Homo sapiens: one gene and its partner. The protein of the gene in region 1 purifies or fractionates together with the protein of each later gene. This does not show direct contact. Each region holds a gene or a part of one and is shown in the gene's direction. Other genes may lie near its edges.

The links.
Region 2: the proteins of HELT (region 1) and SORT1 purify together in Homo sapiens (affinity purification with mass spectrometry; one large-scale study listed by BioGRID and IntAct). This does not show direct contact.

The regions. Positions count from the first base shown.
Region 1 is NC_000004.12:185,016,788-185,020,699, forward strand, and holds the start of HELT (hairy and enhancer of split-related protein HELT), read left to right. Parts: upstream 1-1,702; 5' UTR 1,703-2,141; coding exon 2,142-2,168; coding exon of another isoform or gene 2,169-2,300; intron 2,301-2,563; coding exon of another isoform or gene 2,564-2,599; coding exon 2,600-2,704; intron 2,705-2,959; coding exon 2,960-3,056; intron 3,057-3,485; coding exon 3,486-3,912. UniProt on the Homo sapiens protein: Transcriptional repressor which binds preferentially to the canonical E box sequence 5'-CACGCG-3'.
Region 2 is NC_000001.11:109,328,278-109,332,089, reverse strand, and holds part of SORT1 (sortilin isoform 1 preproprotein), read left to right. Parts: intron 1-3,812.

The DNA.
Region 1 (3,912 bases):
CCGCCTACCCACCCCTGCCAAGGTCTAACGACCCCAAGGGGGGCGCTGGGCCCTGCCATCTCCCTGCAGAACAGAGAGAATTTAGGCAGGGTTAGGGGCAGGCAGAAAAGAAGAAAAATCTGAGAAGCGGTCTCAGCTGTTCCCAGATGGAAAAGATTAGAGAGGTGAGAGTTCGGTGGCTCTAGAAAGGGCCATAAAACAAAAATCATTTTTATCGTTTCAATCTGCAAGAAAGCTCACCCCCCACCCACACCCCACAAGCTCAGAGCCCCCAGAGTATAGGATCCGAGGCAGCAAGTGTGAGCGAGGCCCGTCCTGGGGGAGGTGGCCTCTGGCCGCGGGGCCAGGTTGCCCTCAGAGGCGCAGGCGGCCAAGAGAGTTCCCAGCCGCCGCCGCCCCCCTCCTTCCCCTTGGGCCCGTCCAGCAAATTTCCTCCCTCGTTTCTGTTCGTGCCTTCCCTCCCTCCTCCTCCCCCCGATATTTTCGCTTTCTAAAACCATAAAAAAGAGATCAACTTCCCAAACTTCACAGGGCCCTTTTCAGTGACAAATATTGATGCCCAAAGTGTCTGCGCTCTCCCGCCCCCAAACGTTAAGAAAAGACGCCAGCGAAAGGGAGACATAAAAAGTTAACAATGCTGTGAAAATATGTTTGCAGAAAATAGACAATCGTTGGATTAAACGTATTCAAGTATGAAATAATGCCTTTTTGTGTCAAAACTTGGGCGATGGGCGGGTACAAAAGTTCCCTGTGGCAGCTACTTGCTCCCTTTGTGAGCCGTGCGCTTTGGCGTCTCCACTTGGGCGCATTACTCAGAGCCCTCTAAGCGCGATTGTTTCTCCCTTTCTAATGACATTTACCGGATCAAAACATGCTGTTAATTCGATCAGAAGGCTTCACCCTCCCTGACAAAGCCACAATAATTTCTCCTGAAGTTTGTTAAATTGACCAAAATTAGGCAAATGAATAGGGGTCTGTAGGCGCCCCCTCTCGCAGGTGACGTTGCATAATGCTTGCCTGGGCCAGCTGCATTCCCCCTTTTCTTCTCGGCCCACTCTTCTCCGTGTTGCCCCCCAATCCTCCCACCCGCCCCTTCACACACAAACACACACACACGCCCGCCAGTCTCTCCTCCCCCACCCTCTGGCATTATTAAAATTTAGCCCAATGAAACTATTCATACTTTTCAATGGACATTTTCGTATAGGATAATAGGCTACAAATTGAGCCTCTTCCCCCCGCGAAGAGGGAGCAGGAGGGGTGGGGAGAAAAGAAAGCCAGCGACGTGGTCAGGGAGTAGGGGGGAGCGTCGCGTGCCAAACAGCGGCGGGAGGGGCGAGGCGAGGCGAGGCGGGAGCCTCGTGTGCCAGCCGCAGCCCCACACCTGCCGGGATGTCCGGACAAATAAAGCGGTGTAAACAAAAAGGGGGGAGAAGGACGTGTCACCAAGTCGTGTGAGAAAAGCCTGGGAACAAACGGGGCGCCTCCGTCTCCAAGAGCTCTCCCTTGAACCCGGCGGAACAGCCTATTAAAGGCTTACTTAATTACTTTAATGACTCTGGACAGGCTTTAAAACGCACTCGGCGCTGGGACGGCGGGCTTGCTGGGATTTGTAAACAGGCGATCATGTGAGACTCAGCGGTGGGACTAAAAGAGGCGACACTGTTTTGTGAGGGTCCTCGCCCCCCGGTGCCCGCGGCCGCTGCGCCCCTGCGCTCCGCGCCCGCGACTGCTGCAGGCGCTTGCTCGCCCGCCGGCCCCAGTTTACCGCCTCCTTTTCCCGCCCGAGCTGTTGCCATGCAAATGTTATTCCTGGGCCGATCACGTGTCCTTTGAAGGGCCACGTGGATTAACAAAGCTGATCTGCCCCCAGCTCGCCCCCCTCGGCTGCTAATTTTTTTTTTTTCTTAACTTCTTTAAAACTGATCTTGAATGCATACATCCTCCAAACGCAGCTCCCCTAATCCTATGGAATAATTCAACTCGTGAATGCATCTGGAGCCCTAGATGACCGCTTTATAAGGCAGCCCTCGGAGTTGGGAGGCTGCAGTCTACCTGGGACACTCGAGGAGGCACACGAGGCGGAAAAGTGGACGGGTGCCCCGCGCCACCGCCTCTCCCGAGGGCGCGTACTGACCAGGATGTCAGACAAGCTCAAGGAACGCAAAGTGAGTCGGCTGAGCCCAAATGGCACTTGCGCCCTGGTGGTGGAGGCATCTGACTCACCGACCCGCCACTTGGGTGGACCGATGGCAGGGAAGTGCCCGCACGGGACTTTGAGTGTGGAGGAATCTCGAGTGGTTTGGGAAGGGGGTGGGGTAGAGAGAGGAGGGTGCTCAACCAGGTAGAAGTCCTGCCTGGAGGCTGGCGGCCACCTCCCCAAAGGCCTGGGTAGGGTGGCTGGAAGGGGAGCGCGCCAGCGCGGGCGTCAGAAGGCAGAGCTCACCTGGCCCGAGCGTGGCGGGCCAGGAGTCCCTTCCTAGAGCGAATCTGAGCAGTGTGCGCGGCTGGAGAGGCGGCTTGCACCCAGCTGCTAGAGCCGCGCCTTTGACGACTTCCCGGGCAAAGCCATCCTAAACATACAACCCTCTCTTCGCAGAGAACCCCCGTTTCTCATAAAGTGATAGAAAAGCGGAGGAGGGACAGGATCAACCGCTGCTTGAACGAGCTGGGCAAGACAGTGCCCATGGCCTTGGCGAAGCAGGTAACGTTGGCGACCCGGAGCCGGGTGCCAGGCGTTGGGAGGCCTCTGCGGCCACTCTGCGGAGACGCCCGAGCCCGCGGACACAGAGGACCTCACTTGCGGGCCCCTCCCAGGCGGGGGGCCTGAGCGCAGGGCGAACCTCAGGAGGCTCTGGCGCAGATCCGCAGCCGCGTCCGCTCGCTGGTCCTCTCCAGCGCCACAGTGCCCGACCAGCAGGCGCTGGGCCGCTGCGAGGGGCCCTTCCTCCTTTTGCAGAGTTCCGGGAAGCTGGAGAAGGCGGAGATCCTCGAGATGACCGTTCAGTACCTGAGAGCACTGCACTCCGCTGATTTTCCCCGGGGAAGGGAAAAAGGTGGGCACAGGTTAGGGAATGGGACGCCTGGGCCAGGCGCCTGCGCCACCCAGAGACCCTGGGGCTGGGAGGGGAGTGACTGAGTGTTCCCGAGAGCTCTACTAGAGCTCCACTCTCCAGGAGGGCAGGGGTCCTGCGAAGGCGCCTCTCCCTGCTCGGCGACAGCAAGGCGGCGAGGGAGAACTGGTTCCCAGGGAGGCTGGTTCCACCTCCTTCTCCCGGGTGGGGTGGGTGGGGTCAGGCTCTCAGGGAAAGAGGGCGTTTGCGCGTGCCTCGCCAGTCTCTAAGACTGCGCAGAGGAGAGGGCGGGCCTCAAATGGGAACTTTGGCCAGAAAATGTGGTGGGAGGTGCCCTGCACCCGCTTTGGGCTCGCGTGGGGAAGGGGCACTCAGGGTGTGTCCGTCCTACGGGCTTTCTCGTTCCTCCAGCAGAACTTCTAGCGGAGTTTGCCAACTACTTCCACTATGGCTACCACGAGTGCATGAAGAACCTGGTGCATTACCTCACCACGGTGGAGCGGATGGAGACCAAGGACACGAAGTACGCGCGCATCCTCGCCTTCTTGCAGTCCAAGGCCCGCCTGGGCGCGGAGCCCGCCTTTCCGCCGCTGGGTTCGCTCCCGGAGCCGGATTTCTCCTATCAGCTGCACCCTGCGGGGCCCGAATTCGCTGGTCACAGCCCGGGCGAGGCCGCTGTGTTCCCGCAGGGCTCTGGTGCCGGGCCTTTCCCCTGGCCGCCTGGCGCGGCCCGCAGCCCCGCGCTGCCCTACCTGCCCAGCGCGCCAGTGCCGCTCGCTAGCCCAGCGCAGCAGCACAGCCCCTTCCTGACACCGGTGCAGGGCCTGGACCGGCATTA
Region 2 (3,812 bases), on another chromosome or scaffold:
ATTAATTATTCCAATCCAGGAACATAGGATATATTTCCTTTTTTTTTTTTTTGTCATCTTCAATTTCTTTCATCAATGTTTTGTAGTTTTTAGTCTTTCACCTCCTTGGTTAAATTTATCCCTAAGTTTTTTTTGTTTTTTTTTTTTAAGTTTTTTTCTTGTACTATTGTAGATGAAATTTTCTTGATTTCTTTTTTGGATAGTTTGTTGTTAGTGTATATTGTATTTTTATATGTTGATTTTATATTCTGCAACTTTTTTGAATTTATTAGTTTTAACATTTTTGGTGGAGTCTTTAAAGATTAAGGATTTTTATATATAAGCTCATGTCACCTGCAGACAGACAATTTTACCTCTTTCTTTCTGGTTTGGATGCTTTTTGTTTTTATTTCTTTTTCTTACTTAATTGCTCCAGCTAGGACTTCCATTACTATAATGAACAGAAGTGGTGAGAATGGGCATCTTTGTCTTATTCCTGATCTTAGAGGAAAAGGTTTAGCTTTTGACTGTTTGAGTATGATGTTAGCTGTGGGCTTGTCACATATAGCCTTTATTATGTTGAGGTATATCCCTTTTATACCTAATTTATTGAGAGTTTTTATCATGAATGGGTTTATTATGTTGAGGTATATCCCTTTTATACCTAATTTATTGAGAGTTTTTATCATGAATGGGTGTTGAAATTTGTTAAGTGCTTTTTCTGGATTTATCAAGATGATATGATTTCTATCCTTCATTCTATTAATGTGGCATATCTCATTTATTGATTTGCATATGTTGAACCATCCTTGCATTCCACAGATAGATCCTACTTGATCATGGTATATAATCTGTTTAATATGCTGTTGAATTCAGTTTGTTAGTATTTTGTTGAGAATTTTTGCATCTATGTTCATCAGAGATATTGACCTGTAATTTTGTTTTCTTCTAGTGTCCTTGTCTGGTTTTGGTAGCAGGGTAATACCACCCTTATAAAATGAGTTTGGAAGTGTTCCATTCTCTTCAATTTTTGGAAGAGTTTGAGAAGGATCGGTCTTAATTCTTCTTTGAAGAAAGTTTGCTAGAATTCACCATTGAATCCATCAGGTCCTAGGCTTTTCTTGTTGGGAGGTTTTTGATTACTGATTGAGCCTCCTTACTCATATTAGTATGTTCAGATTTTCTATTTCTTCTTCATGATACAGTCTTGGTAAGCTGTATATGTCTAGAAATTCATCCATTTTTTTCTAGATTATCCAATTTGTTGATGTATAGTTGTTCATAGTAGTCTCTTAGGATCCTTTGTTTTTTCTGTAGTATAAGTTATAATGTCTCCTCTTACATTTCTGATTTTACTTGAGTCTTTTCTTTTTTTCTTATTCTAATTAAAAGTTTGTCACTTTTTTATCTTGTCAAAAAAAACAACTCTAAGTTTCATTGATCTTTCCTGTTATTTTTCTAACTTCTATTTCAGTTATTTCTGCTCTGTTATTATTTCCTCCCTTCTGCTAACTTTGGGCTTAGTTTGTTCTTTTTCTAGTTCCTTGAGGTATAAAGTTAAGATTTTTGAGATTTTTCTTTTTTCTTAATGTAGACATTTATCACCATAAACTTTCTTCTTAGAACTGCTTTTGCTGCATCCCTTAAGTTTTAATATGTTGTGTTTCCCTTTTCATTTGTCTCAAGTTTTTTTTATTTCCCTTTGACTCATTGGTTGTTCAAGAATATGTTGTTCAATTTCCACATTCATGTGAATTTTCCAATTTTCCTCCCTTTACTGATTCTAGTTTCATAATGTTGTAGTTGAAAAGAACTTGAGGCCAGGCACACTGGCTCACGCCTATAATCCTTGCACTTTGGGAGGCTGAGGTGGGTGGATCACGAGGTCAGGAGTTCAAGACCAGCCTGGCCGACTTGGTCTCTACTAAAAATACAAAAAAAAAATAGCTGGGCGTGGCAGCGGGTGCCTTTAATCCCAGCTACTCAGGAGGCTGAGGCAGAGAATTGTTTGAACCCGGGAGGCGGAGCTTGCAGTGAGCCAAGATCACGCCACTGCACTCCAGCCCAGGTGACAGAGTGAGACTCCGTCTCAAAAAAAAAAGAAAGGATACTTGAGGTGATTTCAGTCTTACATTTGTTAAGGCTTGTTTTGTGGCCTAACATATGCACTATCCTGGAGAATATTCTCTGTGCACTTGAAAAGAATGTATATTCTGCTGCTATTGGATAGAATGTTCTGTATATGTCTGTTAGGTCCATTTGTATGGTGTTGTTCAAGTTTGCTCTTTCCTTACTGGTTTTCTGTCTGGATGATCTATCATTGAAAGTAAGTATTGAAGTCCCTTACTATTATTGTATTGTCGTCTACCTCTTTCTTCAGTTCTGTTAATGTTTGCTTTATACATTTAGGTGCTCTAATGTTGAGTGCATTTATATTTACCAATGTTATATGCTCTTGATGAATTGACACCTTTATCATTGTGTGGTAACTTTCTTTATCCCTTGTGATAGTTTTTTACTTAAAGTCTATTTTGTCTGATATAAATATAGCCACCCCCGGCTGGACATGGTGGCTCACGCCTGTAATCCCAGCTCTTTGGGAGACCAAGGCGGGCGGATCACGAGGTCAGGAAATCAAGACCGTCCTCACTAACATGGTGAAACCCTGTCTCTACTAAAAATACAAAAAATTAGCCGGGTGTGGTGGCAGGCGCCTGTAGTCCCAGCTACTTGGGAGGCTGAGGCAGGAGAATGGCATGAACCCAGGAGGCAGAGCTTGCAGTGAGCTGAGATGGCACCACCGCACTCCAGCCTGGGTGGCAGAGCGACACTCCGTCTCAAAAATAAATAAATAAATATAGCCACCCCTGCTCTCTTTTGGCTACCATTTGAGTGGAATATCTTTTTTTTATCTCTACTTTTAGCCTATGTGTCCTCTTACACACATAGGCCTTTACAGATGGCTTCAGCAGGGGAAGCCCTTACCAGGTAGCTCATCCAGAGATTCTTGGGGGGGCAACTGACAGGTTCTGCAGGTAGGTGGGCCTGGTGCCTTGGTCTTTGGGGGTAGCTTGGAGGCTGGGTCCTCTGCGGCAGGCCTGGCAGTGGAATCCACTAGGGTGGACCTTTTAAGTGGGTCTTCAGGTGAAACACCTGGAGCCCGGTAAGTAGATCTGCAGGAGCCAGCCTGGTGCAGGGGTGGGCCCTACCCTGAGCCTGCAGGGGCTGGCCTGATGCAGGGGTCCACTTGGCTGGGTCTGTGAGAGTGGACCTGGAGCCTTTAAGTTTCTTAAAGACAAGACTGGATCTTATTTCGAACCACCATCACATCTTGTACGGTGTCTGAAGTATATCAGGTGCTTATCAAGTTTATTTGTGTAGAGTCAGCCTTTAAACATTGTTCAGAGGCTTTGATGTAATGCAAAAATAAAATAAACGGAGACAGGTTACCCATGAGGAAATATTTGCTTCCAGATATTGTAGTACATTTCAGAATCAAGAGTATGCCACTGAGCTACAACTCAACAACAAACAAATAGCCTGAATAAAAAATAGGCAAAGAACTTGTATAGACATTTCTCCAAACACAATATAGAAGTGACTAACAAGCATATAAAAAGAGGCTCAGCATCACTAATCATTAGGAAAATGCAAGTCAAAACCACAATGAGGTATCTCCTCACACAGATTAGGGTGGCTACTATTTTAAAAAGTGTTGGCAAGGATATGGAGAAATTGGAGCCCTGGTGCACTTTTGGTGAAAATGTAAAATGGTGCAGCTGCTACAGAAAACAGCATAGTAGTTCCTAAAAAAAATTAAAAATAGGATTATC